Homo sapiens: one gene and its partners. The protein of the gene in region 1 interacts with the protein of each later gene in a pairwise test. Each region holds a gene or a part of one and is shown in the gene's direction. Other genes may lie near its edges. The genes, in order: MVP, SAXO1, RNF111, PLSCR1, CAMK2B, HP and PSTPIP1.

The links.
Region 2: the proteins of MVP (region 1) and SAXO1 interact in a two-hybrid assay, tested with the Homo sapiens proteins (one large-scale study listed by BioGRID).
Region 3: the proteins of MVP (region 1) and RNF111 interact in a two-hybrid assay, tested with the Homo sapiens proteins (one large-scale study listed by BioGRID).
Region 4: the proteins of MVP (region 1) and PLSCR1 interact in a two-hybrid assay, tested with the Homo sapiens proteins (2 studies listed by BioGRID and IntAct).
Region 5: the proteins of MVP (region 1) and CAMK2B interact in a two-hybrid assay, tested with the Homo sapiens proteins (one large-scale study listed by BioGRID).
Region 6: the proteins of MVP (region 1) and HP interact in a two-hybrid assay, tested with the Homo sapiens proteins (one large-scale study listed by BioGRID and IntAct).
Region 7: the proteins of MVP (region 1) and PSTPIP1 interact in a two-hybrid assay, tested with the Homo sapiens proteins (one large-scale study listed by BioGRID).

Annotation. Positions count from the first base shown.
Region 1 is NC_000016.10:29,830,146-29,834,463, forward strand, and holds part of MVP (major vault protein), read left to right. Parts: intron 1-328; exon of another isoform or gene 329-369; 5' UTR 370-404; coding exon 405-529; intron 530-732; coding exon 733-928; intron 929-3,587; coding exon 3,588-3,711; intron 3,712-3,789; coding exon 3,790-3,921; intron 3,922-4,318. UniProt on the Homo sapiens protein: Required for normal vault structure. Vaults are multi-subunit structures that may act as scaffolds for proteins involved in signal transduction. Vaults may also play a role in nucleo-cytoplasmic transport.
Region 2 is NC_000009.12:19,023,022-19,027,339, reverse strand, and holds part of SAXO1 (stabilizer of axonemal microtubules 1), read left to right. Parts: intron 1-4,318. UniProt on the Homo sapiens protein: May play a role in the regulation of cilium length. Stabilizes microtubules at low temperature.
Region 3 is NC_000015.10:59,025,209-59,029,526, forward strand, and holds part of RNF111 (E3 ubiquitin-protein ligase Arkadia), read left to right. Parts: intron 1-4,318. UniProt on the Homo sapiens protein: E3 ubiquitin-protein ligase. Required for mesoderm patterning during embryonic development. Acts as an enhancer of the transcriptional responses of the SMAD2/SMAD3 effectors, which are activated downstream of BMP.
Region 4 is NC_000003.12:146,530,590-146,534,907, reverse strand, and holds part of PLSCR1 (phospholipid scramblase 1), read left to right. Parts: intron 1-1,357; coding exon 1,358-1,438; intron 1,439-4,318. UniProt on the Homo sapiens protein: Catalyzes calcium-induced ATP-independent rapid bidirectional and non-specific movement of phospholipids (lipid scrambling or lipid flip-flop) between the inner and outer leaflet of the plasma membrane resulting in collapse of the phospholipid asymmetry which leads to phosphatidylserine externalization on the cell surface.
Region 5 is NC_000007.14:44,224,003-44,228,320, reverse strand, and holds part of CAMK2B (calcium/calmodulin-dependent protein kinase type II subunit beta), read left to right. Parts: intron 1-1,676; coding exon 1,677-1,805; intron 1,806-2,429; coding exon of another isoform or gene 2,430-2,558; intron 2,559-3,007; coding exon of another isoform or gene 3,008-3,105; exon of another isoform or gene 3,106-3,136; intron 3,137-4,318. UniProt on the Homo sapiens protein: Calcium/calmodulin-dependent protein kinase that functions autonomously after Ca(2+)/calmodulin-binding and autophosphorylation, and is involved in dendritic spine and synapse formation, neuronal plasticity and regulation of sarcoplasmic reticulum Ca(2+) transport in skeletal muscle.
Region 6 is NC_000016.10:72,056,985-72,061,853, forward strand, and holds the end of HP (haptoglobin isoform 1 preproprotein), read left to right. Parts: intron 1-407; coding exon 408-482; intron 483-1,269; coding exon 1,270-1,371; intron 1,372-2,129; coding exon 2,130-2,204; intron 2,205-3,127; coding exon 3,128-3,906; 3' UTR 3,907-4,071; downstream 4,072-4,869. UniProt on the Homo sapiens protein: As a result of hemolysis, hemoglobin is found to accumulate in the kidney and is secreted in the urine. Haptoglobin captures, and combines with free plasma hemoglobin to allow hepatic recycling of heme iron and to prevent kidney damage.
Region 7 is NC_000015.10:77,001,458-77,005,775, forward strand, and holds part of PSTPIP1 (proline-serine-threonine phosphatase-interacting protein 1), read left to right. Parts: intron 1-4,318. UniProt on the Homo sapiens protein: Involved in regulation of the actin cytoskeleton. May regulate WAS actin-bundling activity. Bridges the interaction between ABL1 and PTPN18 leading to ABL1 dephosphorylation.

The DNA of each region.
Region 1 (4,318 bases):
CCCAGCTTGCTGTATCTCTCCACCGTAAGAGACTGGGAGCACCTTGATCTGAAGCTCTTTGCAGTGCCGGTGGCAGTGTAGGGGGAAGTAGTTGATGGGAGTGAGGGAAAGGAATTGGCAAGGAACCCTGGGCCTCTGTGGCTCACTGCATCAAGCAGTTCTTGGCAAAGGTAAGGTCAGGATGGGCTGTGTCGTCTTGGGTGGGGTGAAGACAGGGAGCAGTGGGCATGCAGATGCGGACAGGGAAGGGTGCAGTGGCCTGGCTGGAGGAGGTAGGGCCGTATCCCACCCAGAGTCTGTCACCAGATTCATGCCTGCCCCACCCCAGGCTCCCCAGGTTCATCCTGTGTCGTCTCCCCCACCTACCAGTCATCTTCTTGTGAGCCCTGGGCTTAGGAGTCACCATGGCAACTGAAGAGTTCATCATCCGCATCCCCCCATACCACTATATCCATGTGCTGGACCAGAACAGCAACGTGTCCCGTGTGGAGGTCGGGCCAAAGACCTACATCCGGCAGGACAATGAGAGGTGGGTGTGGGGGCTGGGCTGTGGGGGATCCTTGGGGATGTGGGGGCCTGTTTGGCTGGCATGATGGTCCTTATCCTCCTCCCTCTTCCCAAGCAGGAGTGGCCCTCGCTTGGGCGATAGAGAGGTTTCTCTCTCATTTGGTGTCCTCTTTGGTAGTGGAGACCTGGTCCCAGGTCCTCACACCTCTTCTCATCTTCCTGCAGGGTACTGTTTGCCCCCATGCGCATGGTGACCGTCCCCCCACGTCACTACTGCACAGTGGCCAACCCTGTGTCTCGGGATGCCCAGGGCTTGGTGCTGTTTGATGTCACAGGGCAAGTTCGGCTTCGCCACGCTGACCTCGAGATCCGGCTGGCCCAGGACCCCTTCCCCCTGTACCCAGGGGAGGTGCTGGAAAAGGTACCTGGTTTCCTCACTCCCTATGCCCCACCCTACCTGTCCTCCACCTGCCTTGGGCTCTATACTGCTGCCTTCTTCTTCTTTTTTTCTTTTCTTTTTTGAGGCAGAGTTTCACTCTTGTCGCCCAGGCTGGAGTGCAGTGGCATAATCTCGGCTCACTGGAAGCTCCACCTGGGTTCAAGTGATTTTCCTGCCTCAGCTTCCTCAGTAGCTGGGATTACAGGCACCCGCCACCACGCCCGGCTAATTTTTGTATTTTTAGTAGAGACAGGGTTTCACCATGTTGGCCAGTCTGATCTCAAACTCCCGACCCCAGGTGATCCACCTGCCTCGGCCTCCCAAAGTGCTGGGATTACAGGCATGAGCCACTGTTCCCGGCCTGTACCGAGTTCTAAAGGGAAAACAAACCAGGGCAGTGGGAGGGGTGGGGAGAGACACTTGCTGGCTCTCACCAAGGGTGGAATTGACTCACTGTACCTCCACTCACCTCCAGCCACCCCCATCCTCCACACATGCCCCAAACACACCTGCCTCTTTTCTGAGAACTGTTGGCCCATCTCACCTTCCCAGGCTCCAGAGCCTACCAGAAGTGCCCAGCCAGTCTGGCATTAAATGACATGTGCCAAGGTTAAGCAGTTCATTCACCCGGTGCCAGACACTGGTGGGCAGTGCCAAAGCAGCAGTGACAAGCCCAGGCCCCAGGCTGTGCCTGTTCTAGGAGAAGCCATCACAGGCCTGAACCTACAGCCAGGCTCTTGTCCCCGTTGGCCTCAGGCCTGGGCCTGAGCAGGTGGGTGTCCCACCTTCATTCCTTTACCTGTTCTTCCACCTTTACCTTCTGGCCATTTAATGGTTTTGGGTTTTTTGTTTGTTTGTTTGTTTGTTTTTAATAGAGACGGGGTTTCACCGTGTTAGCCAGGATGGTCTTGATCTCCTGACCTCATGATCCGCCCGCCTCGGCCTCCCAAAGTGCTGGGATTACAGGCATGAGCCACCGTGTCCAGCCCCATTTAATGGTTTTCTTACTGACTTTACTAACCAGTGCTGCTTGATCCTGAAAGCATAATAGCAGAACATGGGGAACTTTTAGAGACATTCATGTCCACTTAGGTGCAGACAGTTTGGGGGAAGAAGTGTGTGTGTAGAGAGAAAATGAAGAATGATTAAGACAATAACCCTTAAGGAATCCAAGTGAAAAGTATATAGGGATTCTTGTACCTTTTTTTTTTTTTTTTTTTTTTTGAGATGGAGTCTCACTCTGTTGCCCAGGCTGGAGTACAGTGGCATAATCTCGGCTAACTGGAAGCTCTGCCTCCCAGGTTCACGCAATTCTCCTGCCTCAGCCTCCCGAGTAGCTGGGACTACAGGCGCCCACCACCACACCCGGCTAACTTTTTGTGTTTTTAGTAGAGATGGGGTTTCACCGTGTTAGCCAGGGTGGTCTCGATCTCCTGACGTCATGATCCACCTGCCTTGGCCTCCCAAAGTGCTGGGATTACAGGCGTGAGCCACCGCGCCTGGCCTTTTTTTTTTTTTTTTTTTCTGGATCTCCCCCTGTTGCCTAGACGAGAGTGCAGTGGGGTGATCATAGCTCACTGCAGCCTCAACCTCCTGGGCTCAAACGATCCTTCCACCTCATTCTCCCAAAATGCTGGGATTGCAGGTGTGAGCCACCAAGCCCTGCCTAAGCTTTCATTTTAAATATGTTCAGCCGGGCACAGTGGCTCACGCCTGTAATCCCAGCACTTTGGGAGGCCAAGGTAGGCAGATCACTTGAGGTCAGGAGTTTGAGACCAGGCTGGCCAACATGGCGAAAACCCATCTCTACTAAACATACAACAATTAGCCAGGCGTGGTGGCATGCGCCTGTAATCCCAGCTACTTGGGAGGCTGAGGCATGAGAATTACTTGAACCTGGGAGGCGGAGATTGCAGTGAGCTGAGATTGCGCCACTGCGCTCCAGCCTGGGTGACAGAGCAAGACTCTGTCTCAAAAAAAAAAAAAAAAATTAGCTGGGGGTGGTGACACACCTGTAATCCCAGCCACTCAGGAGGCTGAGACAGAAGGATCACATGAGCCTGGGAGATTGAGACTGTTGTGAGCCATGGTTGTACCACTGCAGTCCAGCCTGGATGACATAGGAAGACCCCATCTCCAAAAATAAAAAAAAGCCAGCTCTTCCTTTGAGCCCCAGTTTCAGTTCAAAGGGCCTTCTCTAACTTCTCCTTCATCTGAACTCCTGAGACAGGGTCTTGCTCTGCTGCCCAGGCTGAAGTGCAGTGGTGCAGTCATAGCTCACTGAAGCCTTAACCTCCTGGGCTCAAGTGATCCTCCCACCTCAGCCTCCCGAGTAGCTGGGACTACAGGTGTGCGCCGCCACCATGCCTGGCTACACTTTTTTTTTTTTTTTTTTTTTTTAGAGATGGGATCTTGCTATGTTGCCCAGGCTGGTTCTTGAATGTCTGAGGTCAAGCAATCCTCCTACCTCAGTCTCCCAAAGTTCTGGGATGACAGGTGTGAGCCACTGTGCCCGGCCTCCACCCCAGTCTTATTTCAGGACATACAGAGATGGATGTTGTGGACCCGCCTCCAGAGCATCAGGCTTGGCCCTGGGGTCACAGCACTGATGGTTCTGTGTCTCCACCTTCTTCCCCACTAGGACATCACACCCCTGCAGGTGGTTCTGCCCAACACTGCCCTCCATCTAAAGGCGCTGCTTGATTTTGAGGATAAAGATGGAGACAAGGTGGTGGCAGGAGATGAGTGGCTTTTCGAGGGACCTGGTAAGTTCTGTCTCCATAGGGCTCCCTGCCTTCCTGTCATAGCCCTGATACCTTCTGACCATCACCTTCCCTCCCCAGGCACGTACATCCCCCGGAAGGAAGTGGAGGTCGTGGAGATCATTCAGGCCACCATCATCAGGCAGAACCAGGCTCTGCGGCTCAGGGCCCGCAAGGAGTGCTGGGACCGGGACGGCAAGGAGAGGGTGACAGGTGGGGTCACCAAGGGGCGATGATGGTGGGTGGGCAGGAGGGGTCCCCACTGCAGGGGAAGCAGGGGAAGGTTGAGGAAAGCCTCCTGTAGCCCCAGAGAGGCGCTTTCCTGGTATCTTTTGAAAGCTGTTGAGGGCCACCCACTGCTCTTCCTTCCCCACCCCCGCTTCATGCTGTTTCCACTTGGGCTGGAAAATGTGACCATGACCATGCGGATGTGGCTTTTCCTTCCCTCACCTTCACCATGAGCTGTGGGCAGTGGCCATGACTTACCTGATTCTGGATCAACAAAGAAGATGTTCAAATACAATTGACAAATGTAGGCCAATAGGTACAGTGGCTCACACCTGTCATCCCAGCACTTTGCCAAGGTGGGTGAATCGTCTGAGCCCAGGAG
Region 2 (4,318 bases), on another chromosome or scaffold:
TGGGCAGTGTCTCCAGGATTGGATAGGAGTCTTTGTTCACACCCACCAGGTCTCCTGGCTTTAGCTTTTCAACATCCACCAATCCAATCACAGGTAGGAAGTATGTCTGTCGTGTAGAGGTTTTGATCACAGCACACTTGTCCTTCCTCTGGGAGTCCAGGTCAATATTTGGACCATCCTCCTCTTGATCATTGGGATCAACATCCAGGAGCTCGATGATGTTGGAGACAAGGTACACCAGGGTTTTGTTCACATTGATTTTCTCACTGTTCTCTTTGATCTTGTCCTTCATGGCTTGGAGCTCATGGGTGACTCTCAACAGTTAACTCTTCATGATCTTGATCTCACTGTCCAGAAGCCATGTGCGCTGGATGATCTCCTCCGTGGACATGTTGAGCACCTCCACCCCAGTTCCATCTTGCTTGGCCTCATCCCACACGGTTGCCATCTTCTTTTCTAGTTTTTGAATTTTTAGTAGAGATGGGGTTTCACCATGTTGGCCAGGCTGGTCTTGAACTCCTGACCTTGTGATCCACCCACCTCAGCCTCCCAAAGTGCTCAGACTACAGGTGTGAGCTACCACGCCCGGCCCAGCATTTTATAATATTAAACCACCTTCCATCTTTACAGTATTTTGAAAATTCAAAAAGTATTTTCCCATATATTATTATCTTACTGTGGGTCCCTCAACATGGGAAGCATTGCTTAGTTTGGAAATTCGATTCCTTGATTTTAGCCTCTCTTTTCCCTGGCGATGTTTTCAGTCTATTGAGCTGTTCTTTCCCAGATGACTAAATTTGAAACTGTGGTTAGGTGGGGGAGTGGGTGGCGCAAGGCAGGGTTGCTGTAAAGTAAAACGTTAATCAGACTTTTAAAGCTGAAAGGGATCTTAGTGGTCTCTAGCTCTTTTATTTTACAGATAAGGAAATAGAAACATTGAGATTAATTTTAATATATGGGAACATGTTAAGCTTCAGGCACAATTTAGGTCAATCAATTAAATTTTATTCATATTTTACTGGGTATCAGACACTGCTAGGTGTTAAAATTTATAGTCTGGTCTATTTTCGAGTCACACTGGACCATTTAAAAAATTGATACATAATGATTGTACATATTTCTGGGGTACAAGTGACATTTTGATATATTCATATAACATGTAACAATCAAATTAGGGTAATTAGCATATCTATCACTTCACACATTGATCATTTATTTGTATTGGGAAGCTTACAAATAATCTTCTAGCTATTTTGAAATATATGGCAAATTATAACTATAGTCACCCTACTGTATTATCAAACACTGTAATTTATTTCTTCTATCCAACTTATTTTTGTATCCATTAACCAACTTAATTAGTTCCCCCAACTCCCACAATGGGCCATTTTTGATTGTAGAGTACAATATGAAGGCTCTGGTCCAACTGAGAAAATAGTATCTGATATAAAAAAAAAAGTGTAATTCTAAAAGCCTTTTAGTAAAGTAATATAAATAGCAAATCTCCCTCCTGAGATTAAAATGTAGTAACACTACTTTTTCTAAAATTCTTGTAAAAAATTGTTAATGAAGGGATTGATATAGCTTACTTTTATATCTGATTATTTTACAGCTTACAGTGCACCATTTTAAAGATTTTGTGCAATCTTGCAGGAAATTCCAGGACTGGTTAATGTATCATGAAATATTTATGAAGCATTGGTAGTATGTGCAGCATTTCATAAAAAAGGTAGTCCCATAGAGGACTCAAAAATTGCTGAAAAGGATGTGGATTTGGCCCTTTCACAGAGCTTGTGGAGGAAGGTGATCTCAGGGGCAGCCATGTATCTGCAACTTAAATCAGTTATGTTAACCAGGGAGGAACTTGTTATTTTAATTTTGGAAAATATTTTCTTCATATCGATGGAAATTTCCTTAACCTTAGATTTTATTTTCTTAGAGTCTCTGTTACACATTAAGAGGAAGGAAAAAAAATTGAGGACTTGGTTTCATATTACATGTTTTAAGAAGAATTCTTATTTTTAATTTAAATAAAATTGACTTCATAAATTCTGATTAAGGAAAAAAAACACAAAGAACAGCCTTTAACAGATACTTGCTGATGACTTATCTTTAGCAGAATCCAGATAGAGATGCCAAGAAAAAAAAGAAAAACTTTCACGTTAAGATTGAATTTTTATTGTAGATTTCATGTACTTTTCATGTTAAGCTATGTTATGCTCCTTAAAAATGGCCTTTTTTGGATATCAGAATTAATGTTTAATTGTTCATAAATACCTTTCATCTTATAAAATGAGTACAAGTGGGTATATGTCAAATTTCAGATATTATTAGAGTACAACTTCATATTCCAATTACAGCAGTAAACATGATCTATTCGACCTTATAGTCTGCAGATGGATCCGTTCAGAGTAACATGTTCTGATTCTGTTCTGTAGTGGGCAGTTTTAAACGTCATTCCCTCCATTGATATTAAAATATTTATTACTGACCTTCAGGTGATTTATAGTTTATTTGGAAAGATGACATGTCTCGGGATGGGTGGTGGAGGGGTGGAAACAGCTACCCTTAGATGAATGAGACCAATAAAACAAGTGATGTAGGATGTGAGGGGTGGGAGAGGCGCTTTGGGATGGGGTAGCCGGGGAAGGCTTTAGGATGGAGAAGTGATGAGGAAAGTGAAGCTGGAGTGAGACTGCCTGGTTTCAAATGCTGGCTCTGCCACTTTTTTTTAAATTTTATTATTATTATACTTTAAGTTTTAGGGTACATGTGCACAACGTGCAGGTTAGTTACATATCTATACATGTGCCATGTTGGTGTGCTGCACCCATTAACTCGTCATTTAGCATTAGGTATATCTCCTAATGCTATCCCTCCCCCCCTCGCCCCACCCCACAACTGTCCCCGGTGTGTGATGTTCCCCTTCCTGTGTCCATGTGTTCTCATTGTTCAGTTCCCACCTATGAGTGAGAACATGCGGTGTTTGGTTTTTTGTCCTTGCGATATTCTTAAGGTTGGTGTGAGGATTAGGCGGGAGAGGAGCACAGGCCCTGGAGGAAAGGGTATGTTGGGGTTTAGTGCGGCTGCCCTTGCTGCAGGGCAGGGCAGTCAGAGAGACACGGAAGACATCATGTCTGCCTGAGTACTTGAGCCTGCAGGAGATCGTGCCGGAAGCTTGCTGGAGGCAAATTGCAGAGGGACTCTTACATGTCTCAGAATGTGAACTCGCCAGCAAAGAGCCATGGATGGATTTTGAGCTGGAGAGTAACATAGATAAATAGTCTTTTCCCCCGCAAAAAAAAAAAAAAAAAAAAAAAAAAAAAAGCCTTAAAGAGTAGCATTTCTTCTTCTTTTTTAAAATATAGAGATGAGGTGTCACTATGTTGCCTAGGTTAGTCTCAAACTCCTGGGCTCAAGCAATCTTCCCACCTCGGACTCCCAAAGTGCTGGTGTGAGGAGCTACTGTGCCTGGCCCCCTTTGTTCGTTCCTTCGTTCCTTTCCTCCCTTTCCTTCCTTTCTTTCCTTTCCTTGCTTTCCTCCCTCCCTTCCTTCCTTCTTTCTTCTTCAGAAATGCCCAATATCTGAATTAGGCTGACTTTAAATCTGTTAATGTTTTGGTTTTTCTGAGTGGATTTGTAGTTTGCTAATATTTCCTTAAAGATATATTATCTCCATTCCATTCTTGTCACTTTTCTTAACTTGATTTAACACATGATTAAGTGATGATTGACTACGAGAAGTGGCAGAGTATTGCAGTTCCAAGCGCAGACTGTGGAGCCAGCCTATCTTGGTTCAAATCCCAGCCTTTCTGCTCCCTAACTGTGTCATGTTAAACCATTTCACAGTGAAGTTTCTATTTCTGTGTACCTCAGCGTTCTCATCAGTAAAAGGGAGATAGAACCTGACTCAACAGAGTTATTGAGAGGATTGAATCAGTATTAAGCAAGTAGAACAATGCGTGCATCCACAGTAAGGCATAGGTAGATGTTATTAAATAAGCATAAAGGTCTGTTCTAGGCAATGAAGAATGAAGAAGTGTACTTGCCTGAGCACTTGAGTCTGAGTGGGAGATCCTGCCAGCAGCTCTGTGGAGCTCGCACCCTAGAGAAGAGAGTTAGGATTGTTTACTAACTTGCATGTAATAAAAAATGCCCTGCAGAGAATTAACTCCGGTGGGGCGGGGGGGTGGGGGGGGATGTAATCTGGTGTTTGGGGGGCTTGATTAAATATTGATGATAAGAATGGTTTGCAAAGACTTCATCTACTCCTTATACTCTGGGAGGCTCTCTGCCCTTTCTGGGATGCCTACACTTG
Region 3 (4,318 bases), on another chromosome or scaffold:
TCATAGCAGTTATCGTGAGTATAACTTTCTCCTTTCTACTAGGAAAGGTAATAAGTTTATCAAGGGTCCCACTCTTCTTTTCATAATTGAGTACATTATTAGGTTGTGTACTCCTAGCAGAAATCTCTTGAGAAATTTTAGTACGAGCTAATGCACTTGAGGGTCCATAGTGATACTTTTGAGGGAAAATACCTTTCTTGCTAATGAAATTTTGGCTATTTAGAATATGTAACAAAGCATATTGTCTGTATTATCTAGATATGAGTAGTAGTAGTTATAGGTAGTAGAAGAGAATATTCTTTCAGGCATTTGATTTAATATACTTAAGCTGGCACATAGTAAAATAAATAAGAGAATTAAAAATTTAATACACACCCCAAGTGATATCCCTGTAGTACAGGTATTATTTTTTTCACTTAATTATATTAAAAAGATAGTTAAATGGTAGACATATTTCTAGTTGATTTTCTGATAATCTCTAAAACTTTTGTAGAAAAATGCCAAGTCATCTATGGCTTTTTTTTTTTCTTTTTTCTTTTGTGTCGGAATTTTGCTCTTGTCTCCCAGGCTGGAGTGCAATGGCGCGATCTCGGCTCACCGCAACCGCTGCCTTGCGGATTCAAGCGATTCTCCTGCCTCAGCCTCCCGAGTAGCTGGGATTACAGGCATGTGCCACCACGCCTGGCTAACTTTGCATTTTTGGTGGAGACGGGTTTTTTCCATGTTGGTCAGGCTGGTCTCGAACTCCCAACCTCAGGTGATCTGCCTGCCTTAGCCGCCCAAAGTGCTGGGATTACAGGCGTGAGCCACTGTGCCCGGCCGGCTTTTTTTTTTTCTTTTAAAATCTTATTTCTTTAGAGTCATGTAAGCAATCATTACATTTTTATTTAAAGTTGAAACAAGTATTCATATTTATAATTGGTGGTGAAGCATCATACCAATAATAGTGTATCACAGTTTAGAAGTAGAGTTCCTCAGAGTTGTATGGATAGTCTTAATGGGTTTTTCCTCCTTTTGCTCACATAAACTTGTTTATGATGTGAATTACTAAATCCCAACCCTAATTTTTAGTTTTGAAAGTTAGTATTTTTTTTTAGCTATCGTATTTTCTTAGTGCAAGGTTTACTAATAGTGGTGTATTCTACACTAGTATCAGGAGTAATTAGCATGCAGTCATCATGACATAGCAATGAAATGATTGGATCGATCTACACAAAGAGGGACTAGTATTATGGTTTCAGTATTGAAACAGTGTGTAACAGCAAGCCATTTATAATGTCACCAAGGAGATATATCTTGTACGCATTTGCCTCCTTTGTAAATTAGATCAGCCAATAATTTTTACAAAAATAAAAGACTAGAATATGGTTTTATCAAACAGCAAATAATTTAGAATATTATCTGTTATATTTGCTGCTTTTTAAGTTAAATGCAATACTTGTGTTTATTTCCTTTTGAACTTTCCTCTTCTAAGTTCAAAATACAGCCTGATACAATTACAGGGATGGATTTTAGAAAAAAAAATTTAGAACATGATACAATACAGCGATGGATTTTAGAAAAAAAAATAGTATGAATTACTCCCTGGGTGGGAACCTCTTAGTTATATGGGATATTAATTTTGCATTTAATGACTGCATGATATGTTAACTCAGAGAAGAGTTAACTGGTGTACAAACACACACCACAGCATACACCAAACCACCCCCCCTTGCTCTCCTCTACCCTTGTCTCATTGGACAGACTAAACTGATCAAAAATCAGAGCAGATTTAACCATAAAGAGTTGATTGCATTGTTTTGGCTTTGGGACATGAAATGATGGAAAAGAAATTGGGTTTAGTTAATTGTGCTGTGAATTGCTTCTTTGTAAATTAATGTATGGCTGCATGTTCTCAGAATTTGTCTGGTTTTTGGCAAGTTTTCATTGCTTCTCATGATCTCCATTATCAACATGAGGACTTAGTAATTACGGATGAGGAGTCTAATTTTTAAATCTTCAGCCCATAAAGACTCCAAGATCTCCTCCTCTGAAATCCACCAGAACATAACTCTGACATGGGTTTCTGGAAGAACCCCAGCTGTTTCCAACATACATCATGAGACTTCTGTTGCTGATGGAGTCTCTGATGCCTAGAAATCTTGATACTTTTCCTCTTGACTTTTTCACTTTTTTTAAACCTCTTGACTTTCTGGCAGGAGTTTTATTGAGATTTTATTTCACTGGGTTTTTAGTATATTCACAGAGTTGAATAGCTGGCACCACAATCAGTTGTAGAACATTTTCAGTTCACTGAAAATAAAAGAAATTCTATACCTTTTTTTCTTTTTTTTTTTGGGAGACAGAGTCTTGCTCTGTTGCCCAGGCTGGAGTGCAATGGCGCAATCTCGGCTCACTGCAACCTATGTCTCCTGGGTTCAAGCGATTCTGCTGCGTCAGCCTCCTGAGTAGCTGGGATTACAGGTGCCTGCCACCATGCCTGGCTAATTTTTGTATTTTTAGTAAGACAGGGTTTCTTTTCACCATGTTGGTCAGGCTGGTCTCAAACTCCTAACCTCAGGTGATCCACCCGCTTCAGCCTCCCAAAGTGGTGGGATTACAGGCGTGAGCCACTGCACCTGGCCCACCTTTTTTTTTTTTTTTCCCCACTCTTGTTGTCCAAGCTGGAGTGCAGTGGTGTGATCTCAGCTCACTACAACCTCTGCCTCCCTGGTTCAAGCAATTCTCCTGCCTCAGCCTCCTGAGTAGCTGGGATTACAGGTGCACGCCACCATGCCCGGATAATTTTTTGTATTTTTAGTAGAGATGGGGTTTCACCATGTTGGCCAGGCTGGCCTCGAACTCCTGACCTCAGGTGATCTGCCCGCCTCGGCCTCCCAAAGTGTAGGGTTTGGCCACCGCGCCTGGCCAGAAACTCCATGCTTTTCGGCCATCATAGTTGAATCCTCCGATGATCCCCAGCCCTAGGTAACCACATTCTATCTATGTAGATTTGCCTATTCCAGACATTCCATATAAAGGGAATCTTACATTATGTTATCTTTTTGACTGGTTTCTTTTACTTAGCATATTGTTTATCCATGTTGTAGCTTGAGTCAGTATGGTAGTCTGCGCCCCTGTCCAAGGGGAAACCATTCTGAGTCCCCCAGTGGATGCCTGAAACCATATAGTGTTTTTTTTTTCATATACCTACATGCCTATGATAAAGTTTAATTTATAAATTAGGCAGAATAAGAGACTAACAACAACAATAAAGTAGCAAAATTCTAACAACATACTGTGATAAAACTTATGTGAATGTGGTCTCTCTCTCATAGTGTGAGTAACTGAAGCTGTGGAAAGTTAAACTGGATAGTGAGGGACTACCGTACTTCATTTCTTTCTATTGCTGAGTAATAATCTTTTGTATGGATTTATTTATTCATCAGTTGATTGGCATTTGTGTTCCCACTTTTTTGGCTGTTATGACTAATGTTGCTGTTTATAAGTTTTTTTATGAATATGTGTTTTCATTTCTCTTGGGTACATACCTAGGAGTGGAAATGCTAGGTCACATAGCAATTTTGTGTTTAATTTTTTTTTTTTTCTTGAGATAGAGTCTTGCTCTGTTGCTCAAGCTGGACTGTAGCGGTGCAGTCCCAGCTCACTGTAACCTCTGCCTCCCAGGTTCAAGCGATTCTCATGCTTCAGCCTCCCAAGTAGCTGGGATTACAGTCAGTGCGCCACTATCCTGGCTAATTTTTGTATTTTTAGTAGAGATGGGGTTTCACCATGTTGGCCAGGCTGATCTCGAACTCCTGGCCTCCAGTGATCCGCCCGCCTTGGCCTCCCAAAGTGGTGGGATTACAGACATGAGCCACCGCGCCCAGCTTGTATTTAATTTTTGAGGATCTGCTAGACCGCTTCCCAAAGTAGCTTGTATCATTTTACATTTCCATCAGCAATATATGAGGGTTCCAATGTTTTTTTTTTATGCATCCTCTCTAACACTTGTTATTACCTGTGTTCTTTATTACAGCCATCCTGTTTGGCCCCATTCAACTCTTAGATCACATGTACCTGTGTTTTATCATTGTGACTTCTGTGTTCTTGCCTTTAATTAAAGTGATCCTTGTCTGACTGGCTGCCTTCTGTAATTTGCTCATTGCCATGCTCATGTTCACTCATCTTTGTATTCCTGGTTTATCACTGATCCTGCTGAACTACAGATAGCGCGTGATGGCTGATCTTGGATACAGCACTGCCTGTGCTTGTGAATAAGAATAAAAGAAGATAGTGGTTTTGATAGCTTTCTGTAGGAATAGGTCATTCTATGCCT
Region 4 (4,318 bases), on another chromosome or scaffold:
TTTGTGTTATTTATTTATTTATTTATTTATTTGAGATGGAGTCTCGCTCTGTCGCCCAGGCTGGAGTGCAGTGGCACGATCTCGGCTCACTGCAACCTCCGCCTCCCGGGTTTAAGTGATTCTCCTGCCTCAGCCTCCTGAGTTGCTGGGACTACAGGCGCGTGCCACCATGCCTGGCTAATTTTTGTATTTTTAGTAGAGATGGGGTTTCATTTTGTTGGCCAGGCTAGTCTTGAACGAGTAGGAGAGCGGTTTTTTTGCCTGATTTTACACAATCACCATGGACTGGATTCCGCTGAAGTCATCATGAAGCTATTTATGAAGGAGAAAGGCCGGGGCAGGGGGTGGGGGAAACAATCCAATCTTCCTGATAAAACCACACGATTCACAAGTTGAGTGGTCTTTGAAAGTTCATAATAGAGACACATACAGAAAAATGTGTTACAGTGAAAGTTTGACCTATATGTTCTTCTATATTGATGCCATGTCTCCATGATTCTAAAACAAAAGACTTTGAATTTACAGTTAGTAATTCATAAGGAAACAGATAAGGAGATAAGTGTAGTGTCTACTGCACCTTAAGCTGTATGAAAGCAGAGCCATTGTAGCCACAGAGCCTAATTCAAGGGTGACACAGGACATGCTCAGTAAATATTTAGAGACTGGCTGCGGTAGGTAACCGAATGACTAGATAGACATGAATATTAATATTTAGGAGGTTGAACCATTTGTGCATATATTAAGTTTACTCAAGCCTTATTAGCAAATAACAAAGTTTAATATGCTAGTGTATTGTAATTAAACATGGCTTTTGTGGGTCAAAAACAGTCATATTTGGGGAATTTCATATGGTTCAACTTCATTGGTGTAGTTCCAGAGTAAGCATAACATATATAAATACTGAAGTATATTCATTATTTTAAATATTTAAAATAATACTTACAGCAATGATGATAGATATCTTTAAAATCATCCATAATTCTACCATCTTCACATCCCATTAATTTCATTTATCTCTTTCTTCGTAGTCTGTATGTAATTTTAAAGCTATCTTTGTTTTATTATCAACAAAACATGGAACTGAACATTCATCAGGGATGTTTCAAAAACTGGTAATTCAGCCCCAGTAACTTAACTGTCTCATTTTATCTAAAGGAGAATTTGTTTGAAACAAATTTGCTAGTTGCAAATTAGCTCTGAGAACAGGCACAGCTTACGTTAAGTGAAAATTTTACTTTCCCTATTTCAATACAGCATAAGAACATACAAGTTACAATTATCTAAGTACAATACATTGTTTCTTTCTAATATATATTTTATTTAATCAGACATCTATTTACCTCTCCTTGAATTGCAGACTCACAGATGAATGCTTCTCACCCGGAAACAAACTTGCCAGTTGGGTATCCTCCTCAGTATCCACCGACAGCATTCCAAGGTAAAGCAGTTGCTGAAAGAAGAAAAAGTAAAATTAATTGAGAGACAGAGAGAGAGAGTGAGAGTGGGAGAGAGAGAGTAAGAGAGAGAGAGAATTGTGCATTTGTTTTTATTTTAGTAGTTCTTTTTTTAAAATTATATTAATGAAATTTTGGCAGCCTAGTTGTTCTTGATTATTTTTATTTGGCTATCATTTTGCACAGAAGTAATTTTTATTTATAGAGGACAGTAAAGGTATAAAGAAAGCTAGTAAAAACAACATTAGGTTTACATTTAGCAAATGAAATACAAGACTGTACATCCTAAAATACAAATGTTAAGTAAAATATTTTATTGATCCTCCATCTGTTCTGAAAATTATGATCATTTAATCACATTTAGGAAATTTATTTCTGATAAACTGAGTCATGTAGTAGCTTGGCATGTGTTCAGTGAGAGTCACATCAAAATAGTAAGACTGCTTAAAACTGAAAGTAATAGAAATTCAGTTACCTGGGAATAATTCTCATTTTAATTTTATAATGTATATGAAAGCTTTATTTTTATATATATGCTGATTCCACCCTGTATTTCTAAGAAAAGTAATTGAGTCATTTGACTACATACATAATTGAGTACATTTTTTCTTTTCAACCAATGCCTGAAAGAATTCAGAGATTTTCATTTAGGCAAATGCAGTTATCAAAACTACTAGAACTTTAAAAATAGCAAAGTCCATGGCATGTCCAGATTTACAAGCAGACAGGCTACCCACATCTTGAAAGAGCATCCTGAGGATTTAGGACCAAAGGGAATGTGGTTTGGATAGAAGGATGTACCCACTGTGTTTTCTTCTCTGAGTAAACAAATGTGCTTAGGAGCTGAATGTCATGTTTAATTGCCTAGCAAGAAACCTCCCTGCGGGTCCCGGATCTCATCCAGATGTTTGCAACTGAAAGAATATGAGCTAGATAAGCTCAGACTCTCAAGTGGTGGCTCATGGCAACCTTGTCTGCACTGAAGTATCATCACCCAGAAGCACTTAAAAATAGTAGTGCAAAGGCACTATTCCAGAAAAATTAAATCATAGCTTCCAGTGGTGGGACTCAAGGAATAGTAATCTTTTAACACCCCAAGTGATTCTAAGGTGAAGCCAGGGTTGAGAACATCTGCTCTAAATTCTTATAGGGTTGGTGTTTGAAAAATCATTAGTAAGTCTATAATATTCATCCAAGGCACTTAAGAGAATGATTTAATCCACCCTATCACTAATTAAAAGTAGATATACATAAATAATACAGTTCAGATATAATCAGACTTGAGAGTTTGTTTATATATATAGATATATATGGCTCTACAGCTTGATTTTGTTTCTCAAGTCCAAGATTACATATAGCACAAGTCTTAAGATAACGATGCTAAGAGTAAGGATAATTTAAAATTGAGATCTTACCATGCTTTAGTCATTGTTTTAAATGTGGAGTTAATGTGGACTAACACTTTTAATTCTTAGAATACTCTTATGAGGTAAATACTGTCAGTTATCCCCATTATGTATGTGGGAAAGCTGAGGCATAGGAAGTTTGTATCAGGCTTCAAGTTCTGCCTACTTTAAAAAAAAAATTCGTATAGGTAAATGTGCTGGTAAACCAGGTTCTGCCTTCTGTACTAATAGTTATGTGGTAGTTTAAACAAGTTGCAGTACCTCAAAGCCTCAGAGTTCCTATCTATAAATAAGGGTGATATTTTCAATGTAGGTTGCTTTGTAGAGTAAATGAGAGTATATGTAAAACACTGAGCACAATGCTTGCAAATTATAAATGACAAGTATTTGCTAACATATTTAAAATATTTTAAATCAATTAGTCTTTACATAAATGATACTAGTATTCAAATTTCAGGTAATTCTTTATGCTTAATTCATTGATTTGAGGAGTAATCCATCATACTTTCAGAGTCTGGGGAAAATTATGATGATGTTAAAAATGTAAGAAATTAACTCACATCTCCATATCCCCACTGGTCTGCCTATGGTCTGGTTTCTGTGCTGACCCCAGTGATCTTTAAAAATGTAAATCTGCTCATATTACAGAGAGTGTAGAGCCCCTATTTTATTAGTGGCCTATTACTTTTAGGATAAAGGCTAACACTAAACTCAGGATGGCCTTTTCCATGCTCTCTCTTTAACTTCCTCTTGAGCCTGGCTTGCTGTTATTCAGCTAGACTGGCTATTTTTCAGATTTTTAAAGGCCTATGTTAGTTACTGTCCCAGGACGTTGCTCTGAAATGTTCTTTCTGTGACTCTGGCCTCCTGAACTCCTGTGCATCCTTCAGATCTCAGCATAAAGGTGACCCCTCAAGGCAGCTGTTCCTGCTCCTTCCCTTTTTCTCTTCCCATCTCAATAGCGACCTTTGGCATCTCTAGTCATAAAACCGTGGTCTCTTACTTGAAAGCATTTATCTCCAATTCTAATGAATCAATTAATTACACTGGTATTATAGCTCCCTAGAATAAGTGGGGATATAAAGTTGTCTCTCTCATTAAACAATGATGGGCAGGGATTGCATCTGTGTTTTCCATTGTAAATTCTAATGCTTTTCCACTCCTGAAAATTTTGTAAGATATAGATAAGACCATGGAACTCATTCTTCTGCTTAAATTCCTCCAGTACTTGCCAATCATAATTGGAACCAAATCCAGACTCCTTACTAAGGCCTCCTTTGATGAACAGCTTCCTGTTGCTTTGCTAACAGCCTTTCCTAGTCGTCTTCTTTCTTATGACATTCCTCTCTCTTTTACGCCTGTCAAATTCATTACAAAGTCAGAGGTATTCTATTTGCCTTTCTTTCCTCCTGAAGCATTTATCACTAATCTTCATATAAAGCTTTTCTCTTCTCATCT
Region 5 (4,318 bases), on another chromosome or scaffold:
AGGAAGGTGCCAAAACTGGAACCCCGACCAGGGTCTCTGGAGCTCACCAACAAGGGGATAGTACGGAGAATCATAAGCCTGGCCTCTGCTGACCTGGGCTGTCCTCATGGGGCCAGGCCAGGCCTCCTCTGTAACGCCCGTGACTCCCTCCTCTCCCTGTAACCCCGTCCAGCGTTCCTCAAGGGCCACTTACCTGACAGCTTCTTGCTGGCCAGCAGCCTCTCCCTGGAGGGTGCCCTCTGCCCCCAGCAGCTTCAGCCCACGCCACCCGACAGCCAGAGCATCTGCCCTTCACTCCTGCAGCCTCCTCTCCACGCACCACGCTGTCCGCAGCAGCACCCTCTGTCCCCCTGTCTCCCTCCGTCCCCCCATATCCCCCTCGGTCAGCCTACAACCTCTCCACGTCCCCCTAAGTCCACGCTCTATCCCTACATCCCCCTCTGTCCCCCAAATTCCCCTCTTTCCCTCATTTCCATTTTCCTCCCCAAACTCTGCTCTGCCCCTCACATTCTCCCTCTGTCCCCCACACCCTCCTCTGTCCCCCAGACTCTCCCTCTGTCCCCCACACCCTCCTCTGTCCCCCATATACCCCTCTGTCCCCCACACCCACCTTGGTCCCTTCACGCCCTTTTCTGTCCCCCACACCCCCTCTGTTCCCTACACTCTCCCTCTGTCCTCCAGACCCTCCTCTGTCCCCCACACTCCCTCTGTCCCCCACACCCCCTGTCCCCCACACTCTCCCTCTGCCCCCCAGACCCTCCTCTGTCCCCTACACTCCCTCTGTCCCCCATATCCCCCTCTGTCCCCCACACCCTCCTCTGTCCTCCACCCCCTGCCCCCCATACCCCCTTCTGTCCCCCACACTTCCTCTGTCTTCCACACCCCCTCCTGTCCCCCACACCCCCTCTGTCCCCCAGACTCTCCCTCTGTCCCCCACACTCCGTCTGTCCCCCACACCTCCTGTCTTCCACACCCCCTTCTGTCCCCCACACCCCCTCTGTCCCCCATACTCTCCTCTGTCCCCCACCTCCCCCTCTGTTCCCCACACCGCCTTCTGTCCCCCACACCCCCTCTGTCTTCCACTTCCCCTCTGTCCCCCACATCCCCCTCTGTCCCCTGCACCCTCCTCTGTCCCCTGCACCCTCCTCTGTCCCCTGCACCTCTCTCTGTCCCCCACATCCCCCTCTGTCCTCCACACTCCCTCTGTCCCCCACATCCACCTTGGTCCCCTCACGCACCCCCATCCCCCATGACCCCTTCTGTCCCCCACACCCCCTCTGTCTTCCACACCCCCCTCTGTCCCCCACACCCACCTTGGTCCCCTCATGCCCCCCATCCCCTACACCCCCACTTTGTCCCCCCACATGCCCCTCTGTCCCCCACGTTCCCTTCTGTCTCCCACGTCTCCTCCATTTCCCGTTTCCCTCTCTGTCCCCCAAGCTCCCCTCCATCCCCCACATCCCCTTCTTTCCCCTATATCCCCTCTGTCGGCCCAGGTCCACCATCTTCCCCCCACACCCCCCCATTCTCCCTTCCTCCCCTCTGTCCCCTTGTGCCCCATCCCCCACATCTGCCTCTGTGCCCCTCAATCTCTGGCTTGGCTGTCTGCCCATGGTTTCTCTCCTGCGTGCCCCCCGTGCCTGCCTTGTGTTCACGTCTCGTCTGTTCCGCCCCAGCCCCCAGGATCTCTGACATCCTGAACTCTGTGAGGAGGGGCTCAGGGACCCCAGAAGCCGAGGGCCCCTCGCCAGTGGGGCCCCCGCCCTGCCCATCTCCGACTATCCCTGGCCCCCTGCCCACCCCATGTAAGTAGCACCTTGAGTGGCCGTGGCAGCGGCTGCCCGGAGGGGCTCGGGGCGTGCGAGCCTGGCAGTGGTGCTCTGGGAAGGGCCATTCTTGCGGAGGAGGGCGGGGCACAGGATCCCTCTGCTGGGTCCCAGGGAATTGCTTTGAAGCACATGAAGGTGCCACTGGGTCTCAGAAAATGGAGGTTATGGTTATGAAGTGTGTATGACATATGTGTATAGGAAGAGCGTCCGAAAGAGCAGGTTTGTTGCCGACCCCAGCATTCGCAACCCTGAGGTCCACAGCTTTCTCCTGATGGGAGGGGAATGGGTGGCAAAGGGTCTGCGCGTGTGGCAAGGGCTAGCACGCCAGGAGCTGCTGGCTTGGGTCAAGGTGGACCTGCTGGGCCGGGACAGAAAAGTGTCAGTCCCGGCCTGAGACGCTCTAGCATTAGAGCTGTCCAAGTCCAGACAGCAGGGAGCAGGTGGGGATCGGGAGGCGCGGATCTGGGGGGCAGCTGGGGCCAGGCTGAAACAGAGCGGGCGGGACAGGAAGCACAGGCTGGGCAGCCTCCCCGGCCAGGGAGGAGCCAGGCTGGGCCACCTCCCGGTCTGTCTGCCGACTACCCGCAGTATCACTTACAGGGATGGATGACATCCCAGGGCTGCTGCCACCCCCACCTGTGGGGAGACACCAGACTGGGGGTGGTGTGGAGATACTCTTAGAGAAGAGGCTGCTGGGCCACGGGCTCGGCATGGCAGGGCAGTGGCTAGGTAAGTACTTGAGGGACAGGTGGGGTCTGCTTGCCACCGTCCCCTCTGCAGGCTGGGCCTGGGGGCTGCTGCAGGCGGCCAGGGCAGAAGGGTGTGGGGAGAGTGAACCCACAGGAGCAGCGGCTCGAGGAGGGGGATGCAGGCTGCAGGCTCAAAGGGGCACTGGATCCACCCTGGGTGCCCGAGAGAGCAGGGGGCAGCCCCTGGAGGGGTACTCACCCCCAGAGCTTCTGTGGTCGGCTGAGGACCCCCAGCAGGGGTTGACTGAGGGGATCAGAGGCAAGCAGCTGAGGGGAGAGGCCAGGTTCTTGATGCTGATAGGGTCGGGGTGCCTGGGCGACCAGAACTCAAGGAGGGAGGCATGGGGAGGGGCCGCCGTGCAGCTGGGGTGGGTGCACCGCAGAGCCTCTGGGAGTGGTCAGAACCCCCGACACCTGCCACTTCTACAGCAGCTCATCTGATTTTAAGGGGCTTGCTGCCCTTGCAGAAGTGGAGGGGTGTGCCCAAAGGAGCCTGCCTGGAAGGTCACCCCATCAGGTTGGCATGACCCCAGCCCAGGACTGCAGCCTGCCCTCAAGGTCTGTGCAGTATCTGGGGTGAGTCCTCTGAGGACAGGGCCCAGGGTGGGTGTGGAGTGGCCAGCTCGGGGCTCGGTGTCCAGGCTCACCTTCAGGGGCCACAGCACAGACCTGCCCTTCCAGAGTCTTCCCTGAGCTTGGCTGGGGAGGAGGGGGCTGCAGGAAGGAGCTGTGAGCAGGGCAGGATGGAGATTCGTGTGGCCCTCCTGGGAGGGGCTGGGCAGGGCTGGGAAAGGGGTGGGTGAGATGTTCCGGAACTCAGGGAAAGGAAGAGTCTGGGTACTGCCCTGGGGGCACCTGGGCCCAGGTGGCAGGTGGCCAGCTTTCTGCCTCCTTTCCACCTCCTTTCTCCAGAAGGCACCCACCAGCTGTGTAAATAGGGCAGGTGCCCACGGCCCGCCTCAGGCCCCGTCTCCTCCCCACCCACGCTCTCTAATCGCGGATTATACACAATCCAGCCTGATCCCTGGGCAGCTGCCCTCCCTCCCGCAGCCACCTCTGGCTCTGAGAGATGGGCTTGGGGCCAGCCTGGGGTCCCAGGAGTCCAGGCCAGGATGAGAACCTGCTCTGACCCCACCTGGACGCATTAGGCCTGCCTGGACCTGTTGCCTCACCCCAAGAGAGCCACAGGCAATGCAAAGGCTCCTGTTCATGTCAGGGCACCTGGAAGGCCTGACTTGCAGAGGCTCTTGGCTCGTGCAGACCCCTCCAAGCCCAGGCCCTGCCCACCACCTCCCCTTTGTCTCTGGAACTGCCAGGACAGCTTGTCCTCAGCCAGCAGGTTTCCCGACCCGGGCACCTCTTCATGTTGGGCCCCCCTCCTTTCCCTCCATCAGGGATCATGCCCTTCTTCAGGGGCCTGGATATCAAGGACACAAAAGCTCCCATGTGCTATGTGGGGAGGCAGAGTGGGGGCTGGGTTGAGCTGGGGTCTGGGCAGCGCCATTCCGCAGGGCAGGGGCAGCCTAGGCTTCCCATCTGTGGAATGGGTGGGTGGGTCTCACAACGGACCTGCTTCCCGTACTTCAGCACGGTTACCACTCTTGATTGGAACTCTGACCATGCATCTCCTCTTCTGTTTACTTCACGCTTTCTCTTCCCATCAACTCCCATTTTAATTACAATTTGTTTAAAAGCACTGCATATTACTTCATTAAACAGAAGATTAGTTTCACTTACCAT
Region 6 (4,869 bases), about 42 Mb from region 1:
TATACTTATTTGCTCACTTAGTCCTCACAGTATCCCTCTGAACAGAGTTTATTGTTTTCACTTTGCTGATAAGGAAACTGAGGCACAGACAGGTTGAGTATCTTGCCCAAATTCAGGCAGCCTGTAAGAGGCAGAGTCAGGATTTGAACCCTGAGCCCTCCCTGTACTGCTTGGCTGTGACCGCCATGACCACAGTGTGTTCTGCTGGGCTTAACTGGTGTCCAGGCACTTGGCTTCCAGCACAGCACTCTTTCCCTTCCTCCTTCTCATATTCTCTCTCCTTTCTCCCTTCCTGTCTGCCTCCTTTCTTCTTCTTCTTTTTAATTCTTCTCCTTAAATGCCTTCTCACTCTGCTCTGGGTGCAGACTTGACTTTTCCTTTGGCTCATTTCTTGCCTTTTGTTTCAGGAGTATACACCTTAAATGATAAGAAGCAGTGGATAAATAAGGCTGTTGGAGATAAACTTCCTGAATGTGAAGCAGGTGGGTGCTGAGCACTGAGCACTTAAGAGAGCAGGCAGGCGTCCAGCGGGGAACGTCCTAGAGGCACAGCCTTCCAGTGCGGCTTCCTCTGAGCACACAAGAGCCAGGAGGAGGGATGTGGGAGAACCGCAGCTGGCCAGGGAGAGACTTAAGCAGTTAGGTGATGACTCCCTAAGGGTCACCAAGGGTCTTGTTCATTGGGGCCTGAAGGGCACTGGCTGAATCCACTGTCGGCACTGCCCACAGATCAGGAGAGCCTGTGCATACAGAGAGCCTGCTAGAAAGCCCTGGGTCTAAGGAGAAGCAAGCTCCAGGGAGAACAAGTCAAGGAATGACATAAAATCTTAATCCATGGAAGCCTAGCAGGAGGCTGGACATGGGCTGGAACTCCTGCTTCTCGTTATTAGGAGGAGCTGTTGCTCTCTCCTTTCATTCTCAGAACCAGAGGCAAAGACCCAGCCTCTTCTGCTCTTACTGGTGTGGAAATGCCAACCTGCCTCGTATTAACTGCACCATCTACAAAATCTGAGCTCCAGCCAGTGCTGCTCTAGATTCATCTTTCTTTAGAGAGAATGAATTATTGTAGCCCCTAGCCCTTTCAATGAATTTCAGGGAATTGTGGAAATTCCTTTATTGGGATAATTGTTTAAAAATAATACAGTTCGCGAGCTTCTATTCGGGGTGGAAGGAGATTGATGTGCAGAGCAGCTCCCGCTCATCTGACTTTTCACGGTTCACTGGGAACAATTTCCAAATAGCAAACTCTCTGGCTTCTCTCTCTTTGCAGATGACGGCTGCCCGAAGCCCCCCGAGATTGCACATGGCTATGTGGAGCACTCGGTTCGCTACCAGTGTAAGAACTACTACAAACTGCGCACAGAAGGAGATGGTAAGATGTGGACAACTGTCTCCATGCCCTACATACAACCCCCTTCTCTGACATTTCCATGATGGGTGGTGCTGAGGTGATTCGCCAGAAAGTTCGTTGCTCTCCTTGGAGCCAGGAGATTTAGATTCTAATAAGCGTTTTGTCGCCAGTAGCCATGGCCCTTTGGGCAGACTAACTTTTGTCAGCCTCAAGTTTTCTGTTTTGTTAAGGGGAGGCGATGCCATGCAGCCTACCTCATGTAAATCTCAGAGTCACATTTACATCTCCAGCAGATGTGGGAAAAGAAGGAATGCTGATGATGATGTCACCCTCACCTAGTGAGTCTTGCTGTCCTGGCACTGCTCTAAGGGCTTTATACTTATTTGCTCACTTAGTCCTCACAGTATCCCTCTGAACAGAGTTTATTGTTTTCACTTTGCTGATAAGGAAACTGAGGCACAGACAGGTTGAGTATCTTGCCCAAATTCAGGCAGCCTGTAAGAGGCAGAGTCAGGATTTGAACCCTGAGCCCTCCCTGTACTGCTTGGCTGTGACCGCCATGACCACAGTGTGTTCTGCTGGGCTTAACTGGCATCCAGGCACTTGGCTTCCAGCACAGCACTCTTTCCCTTCCTCCTTCTCATATACTCTCTCCTTTTCCCCTTCCTTTTTGTCCCCTTTTCCTCTTCCTTTTAGTTCTTCTCTTTAAATGCCTTCTCACTCTGCACGGGGTCTAGACTTGACTTCTCCTTTGGCTCACTTCTTGCCTTTTGTTTCAGGAGTGTACACCTTAAACAATGAGAAGCAGTGGATAAATAAGGCTGTTGGAGATAAACTTCCTGAATGTGAAGCAGGTGGGTGCTGAGCACTTAAGAGAGCAGGCAGGCGTCCAGCGGGGAACGTCCTAGAGGCACAGCCTTCCAGTGCGGCTTCCTCTGAGCACACAAGAGCCAGGAGGAGGGATGTGGGAGAACCGCAGCTGGCCAGGGAGAGACTTAAGCAGTTAGGTGATGACTCCCTAAGGGTCACCAAGGGTCTTGTTCATTAGGGCCTGAAGGGCACTGGCTGAATCCATTGTCTACATCGCCCACAGATTAGGAGAGCCTGTGCATACAGAGAGCCTGCTAGAGAGCCCTGGGTCTAAGGAGAAGCAAGCTCCAGGGAGAACAAGTCAAGGAATGACATAAAATCTTAATCCATGGAAGCCTAGCAGGAGGCTGGACATGGGCTGGAACTCCTGCTTCTCGTTATTAGGAGGAGCTGTTGCTCTCTCCTTTCATTCTCAGAACAAGAGGCAAAGGCCCAGCCTCTTCTGCTCTTACTGGTGTGGAAATGCCAACCTGCCTCGTATTAACTGCACCATCTACAAAATCTGAGCTCCAGCCAGTGCTGCTCTAGATTCATCTTTCTTTAGAGAGAATGAATTATTGTAGCCCCTAGCCCTTTCAATGAATTTCAGGGAATTGTGGAAATTCCTTTATTGGGATAATTGTTTAAATATAATACAGTTCACCAGCCAGGGCTCAAAAATCTCAGTATTTCCCACTTCCTTTGTTAGAAAAGTGGGAAATAGAGCTTTTTGTAATGTAAACAATTTAAAAAACAGAATTATTTTAAAACTGCAACTATTGGAAATGAGATCAGCAGGTGGTAAGGGCAAAGCATTTAAATCTTTCTACTTTACGCAGCAGTGACAGCCGCCCATGCTTTCACCCCTTTCTCAGATGGAAAGGCTCTTGCACATTTCCACTCACGAGTGTCTTGCTCTCCTTGACAGTATGTGGGAAGCCCAAGAATCCGGCAAACCCAGTGCAGCGGATCCTGGGTGGACACCTGGATGCCAAAGGCAGCTTTCCCTGGCAGGCTAAGATGGTTTCCCACCATAATCTCACCACAGGTGCCACGCTGATCAATGAACAATGGCTGCTGACCACGGCTAAAAATCTCTTCCTGAACCATTCAGAAAATGCAACAGCGAAAGACATTGCCCCTACTTTAACACTCTATGTGGGGAAAAAGCAGCTTGTAGAGATTGAGAAGGTTGTTCTACACCCTAACTACTCCCAGGTAGATATTGGGCTCATCAAACTCAAACAGAAGGTGTCTGTTAATGAGAGAGTGATGCCCATCTGCCTACCTTCAAAGGATTATGCAGAAGTAGGGCGTGTGGGTTATGTTTCTGGCTGGGGGCGAAATGCCAATTTTAAATTTACTGACCATCTGAAGTATGTCATGCTGCCTGTGGCTGACCAAGACCAATGCATAAGGCATTATGAAGGCAGCACAGTCCCCGAAAAGAAGACACCGAAGAGCCCTGTAGGGGTGCAGCCCATACTGAATGAACACACCTTCTGTGCTGGCATGTCTAAGTACCAAGAAGACACCTGCTATGGCGATGCGGGCAGTGCCTTTGCCGTTCACGACCTGGAGGAGGACACCTGGTATGCGACTGGGATCTTAAGCTTTGATAAGAGCTGTGCTGTGGCTGAGTATGGTGTGTATGTGAAGGTGACTTCCATCCAGGACTGGGTTCAGAAGACCATAGCTGAGAACTAATGCAAGGCTGGCCGGAAGCCCTTGCCTGAAAGCAAGATTTCAGCCTGGAAGAGGGCAAAGTGGACGGGAGTGGACAGGAGTGGATGCGATAAGATGTGGTTTGAAGCTGATGGGTGCCAGCCCTGCATTGCTGAGTCAATCAATAAAGAGCTTTCTTTTGACCCATTTCTGTGTTGTGTTCAGTCTTGAGTCTTTTTTATTTGCTCCTTTATGGTCCAGGGTAGTCAGAAGGTATAGAGTCTACTGGGAGTATGGCAGAAAACACCCTAAACCCACTGGAAATCCCGAAGGTGATACAAACTCTTCCACCTTAGGGAATCATGCTCACTGATTGAGTGCCTATTGAATGCTAGGTCCCAGAAAGTTAACTGTTGTCCTTGTTTTACAGACAAGGAAACAGAGACTCAGAGATGGTAAGTGAGTTGCTTAAGGTTACATAGCTATGAAACAGGGAAGCAGAACTTTGAACCCAGGTCTGTTTGATACAAACTCAGAGGTCCTTTCACTGCATGCTGTTGCCTCCTCAAAGTGAATTAGGAGAAAAGGCATGGGCCTGGTTGAGGAAGAGGCTAGCTCAAAATGGGATGGGGAAAAAGTGTTTTAACACAGACAGTACTTCAGAGTTTGGGATCTAACCTACCAGCACTCCAGAAAACAAAAGACAATGATGTAAAGGCAGGATCTCTGGACTTACTGAGTCCAAATCACAGAATGGCCCATAAATTTGCTAAGTAATTTAGGTTTCCTGGCCATCAGTTCCTGGTCTCTTCCATGAAGGACTTGAGCCAGGCGATGGCTAATGTCCCTATCAGCAATAACCTTCTGGTATTCCATAAAGAGTGGGGAGGTAGAGTCCCTGCATCAGTAGAAGCTGCTTTTCCTACTGGGAACAAACCCACCCTGCACCAGGAATCAAATGCAGGCTGTCTGAGCCTCCTCTCCTGATGGCAGGTCATGCTATTA
Region 7 (4,318 bases), on another chromosome or scaffold:
AAGGCCTTGCAGCCCAGCAAACTGCTGTGGCTTTGAGGGCCAAGGAGGCCAGTGGCTGAGGAGTGGCCCTGGTGCACTCAGAGCTTGCAGACAGTGCAGGAGGTGGGAGAGAGAGGCCCTGGCCATCCTGCCTTTGCTGCCACCAAGTACCTTCCCGGCACCTGCCTGGCTGCATCTGTCAGAAGCAGTGAGGACGGAGGCTCTCCCTTTCCTGATTGGGAAAGCTCTTTAAGACCTGGTGTTCCCTGTAAAAAGCAGAGAGCCTGGCAGTGCACCTGGTCGGCAACCCGTTGTGAAAAGTGGGGAAATAAGCATTTATACTGGCGCAGGCTTGTAGTATTAACAACAAAAATCTGTGGACGGATGCACAGGGAGCTAATTAAAGTGGTTGCCTGTTGGGAGAATGAGAGAAAGGAGATGGATGAGGGATGAGGCTGAGCGGCTGTGAACGTTTTCAGGATTGATGTTTTTATACTGTTTGATTTTTGAACCATATGAATGTATTAATTATTCAAAAATTAAATCAAACAATTAAAAATGAAAAAGAGGACATTTATTTCAAGTCCCATGAAGAATTTTTCCCTGAATCCCAGCTACTTACATCATCCCCTGAGGAGCAGCAATGCTGCCATTTGCTGAGTGCCTGTTCCATGCCAGGCATGCTGCCATTCAGTCCACATGCCCCCAAACGCATTGTCAGTGTCTTCCTGACTCTGTGATGGGACCTAAGGCACGGCAGGTCTAGGCCCAGACGAGGGTCACCTGTGCAGGGTAGAGCAGGGACTCCCACCTAGGTCTGTCGAACTCTATTGCCCTCTGCCCTGAATTCTAGAGAGTTTGTTCTTGCTTCTACTTTAATTTGTGTAGGATGAAAGGATGCTTCCCTACATGTTAACACTGGTGTCTATGGATTTGGAAGTAGGATTCTCTCCATCCCCCATCTAATTTTCTGCAAGTCAATACAGAGTACCTTTGTCATTAAAAAGAAAATATTTAAAAAGAAAACTAAGCAATTCCTGCTTTCAAGAATGAGTTGGTGTTTCTAGGCCAAATTTGTGGTTTGCTAGCATGCCCTTTTCCACATGCTCGGTGCATATTTTGTGGTACGTGGGCCTCTGGGGACCAAGAACTTCGTTCATCTGTGCCCATTCCACAGGACGTGGCCGGCTGCTCAGGTGTTAGAAGATTGCAGAGGTTTGTGGTCATGCTTGCTTTGCTTTTGCGATGCCTGCAGATGGTCACTGCCAGGATTTGCTGGCTGCAGGGTTCTGGGTCGATTTGGTGTTCTGAATTCAATTTTATTCTTGATAAAAAACAAGATCTGCTTCTTGATGACCCACTTTGTGCTCCAGTCCCCTGGAACCCACATGCTTTTCCTGGCTGCTCCTGACATCTACACAGAACTAGGGCAGCCCCTGGGATGGAGAAGGAGGGCCTTGCTTTGGGCTTTGAAGGGTGGGTGAGGATTTGAGACATGTCAGGAGGACAAACGGCACTCAAGGTGGGAGGTACGGCATGGGCAAAGGTGTGGAAGGGGGTTTGGAAGACAGTTTTCTGGCCCAGAGCATTGTGCAAGGTGACTGGTAGGAAGGGAAGGCACGAGCTGGATTGTGAAAGGTCTCTGCCCTAAGTGGTGGCAGAGATACTTTCTTCTGCCTCTCTGCACCCTCTCTGGTGGTGGCTGTTTCCTCTCATGCAAAAGAGGACAGAGGCTGCGGGCTGTGAGTGGGATGCCCTTCCTCCTCACCCAGAGCCTGGCTGACGCTGCAAACCACATGATGGAGGGAACTTTGGGTGGAAACCAAGACTGCCTCTGCTTCCAGCTAGAGAGCATGATGCCCTGGGCCCTGGGCTGCCCACACCAGGACTCTCCTCTGGGTTGGCTCTGGAAGGTTCCTCCCTCACAGACTCAGTCATGCTCCATCCTCCAGGCTTAGAAGGAAATCGGCTTCTTGGGAGGCCGAGGCGGGTGGATCATCTGAGGTCAGGGGTTCGAGACCAGCCTGGCCACCATGGTGAAACCCTGTCTCTACTAAAACTACAAAAAAATTAGCGGGGCATGGTGGCGCATGCCTGTAATCCCAGCTACTCAGGAGGCTGAGGCAGGAGAATCGCTTGAACCCAGGAGGTGGAGGTTGCAGTGAGCTGAGGTTTCACAATTGCACTCCAGCCTGGGCAAAAGAACGAAACTCCGTCTCAAAAAAAAAAAAAGAAGAAGAAGGAAGCGGGCTTCTTTGAAGCCTCACCCAACCCTCACCCACACTTGCTAGGTGGCCTTGGAGAATCATTTTCCCTTTCTGAACCTCAGTTTCCTCATCTGCAGGATGTCAGGGTCGTCATCACTTAAGATAAGGGCTTTGAGGTTGGGGCGGCTCAGGGCAGTGCTAAGGGACCACCTCCTGCTCACCACAGTGGAGTAGCAGACCAGGAACAGTTCCCAGGGGACCCAGATTTATAATTGGATATGCACCCATAGGGTGAGCCTTATACATAGATCTTGCTGTTTCAGAATGCCTCCTCCAATCATGTTCACCATTGCATGTTATACTCCACCATTAGAGAATCATTCCTTTGGTTTCAAGTAACAAGATGATCTATGTTATCTCACTTAATTCCAACAATAGTCCTGTGAGGTCAGTATTCTTATTCCTGTTTTACAGAGAGGAAACTGAGCCTCTTGGAAGGAATGTGGGCCTGGGGGATGCCACACAGATGGATCGGACTGGGCTGGGCCTGGATGCCACCTTCCCAGGTCTGGGTCAGAGAGCCCTTTGCAGTTAATGGGAGGGTGTGTTGGTTTGCTGAGGCCTGGCACACTGAGCAATGGGTGATGGAACAGGCAGGAGAGCGACAGCTCCTTCCACTGGTGTTGACAGGCCACCCACCATTGGGCAACAGGAAGTGCCAGCTGGAGCCCTGGAGACCAGCAGCCAGTGTGGGGATGTGGTGGCCAGATGGAACTCAGGGCTTCCCAGCTGTGGAAACAGGAACGGGAAACAGCCACACTGGGGAGGAAGTCAGGGGGTGATGGGCTGAGGCAAGAGCATGCCTGCGTGGCTAGAGAGAGTGACCAAGGTGGAGAGTAGTTGGAGATAAGGTAAGAAATAGAACAGTGGCCAGGCGTGGTGGCTCACACCTGTAATCCCAGCACTTTGGGAGGCTGAGGTGGGAAGATCACTTGAACCCAGGAGTTCAAGACCAGTCTGGGCAACATGGTGAAACCACTTCTTAAAAAAAAAAAAAAGTACAAAAATTAGCTGTACCTGGTGGTGCACACCTGTAGTCTCAGCTACTTGGGAAGCTGGAGTGGAAGGGTCACTTGAGCCCAGGAGTTGGAAACTGTAGTGACTGTATGATCGCACCACTGCACTCCAGCCTGGGCAACAGAGCAAGACTGTCTCAAAACAAACAAACAAACAAACAAAAAAAACAAAGAAAGAAAAGAGAAGCAGAGAGCCAGATCTTGTAGGACTGTCATTCTAAAAAATCCCAATGCCCAGGCCACACCCCAGGTCAATTACACCCCGATTTCTGAGGGTAGGACCTGGACATCAGTATTTTTCAAAGTTCCCCAGTGCCTCCATGTGGAACTTTAGCTTGAGAGGCATCAACATAGATAATTGTGGTAATTAATTACCATTGCTGGCCAAGCATGGTGGCTCATGCCTATAATCCCAGCAGTTTGGGAGGCCAAGGTGGGCAGATCACCTGAGGTCGGGAGTTCAAGACCAGCCTGGCCAACATGGTGAAACCCTGTCTCTACTAAAAATACAAAAAATGTAGCCAGGTATGGTGGTGCATGCCTGTAATCCCAGCTACTTGAGAGGCAGAGGCAGGAGAATTGCTTGAACCTGGGAGGCAGAGGTTGCAGTGAGCCAAGATTGTGCCACTGCACTCCAGCCTGGGCAACAAGAGCAAACACTCAATATCAAAACAAAACAAAACAAAAATTACCATTGCTGACAATAGGCATACATCTGGTTTTTACCATTTTCCTGACCTCATTTGACTCACCTGAGTGAGCAGAGGTTAGAAGTTTTGGGGGTGGTGGTAATTATATGTAACATAAAATTGACCATTTTAACAATTTTTAAGTATATGATTCAGAGGCATTAAGAACATTCACTATTTCCTGAACTGCTTCATCATCCTGAACAGAAATTGTACCCATCAAACAATAACTCCCCACCCCTTCACCGCATACCTTGTTCTACCTCGATTCTACTTTCTAGCTCTATGGATTTGCCTATTCTAGGCATCTCCTGTAAGTAGAATCAGATAATATTTGTCCTTTTGTGTCTGGCTTATTTCAGTTAGC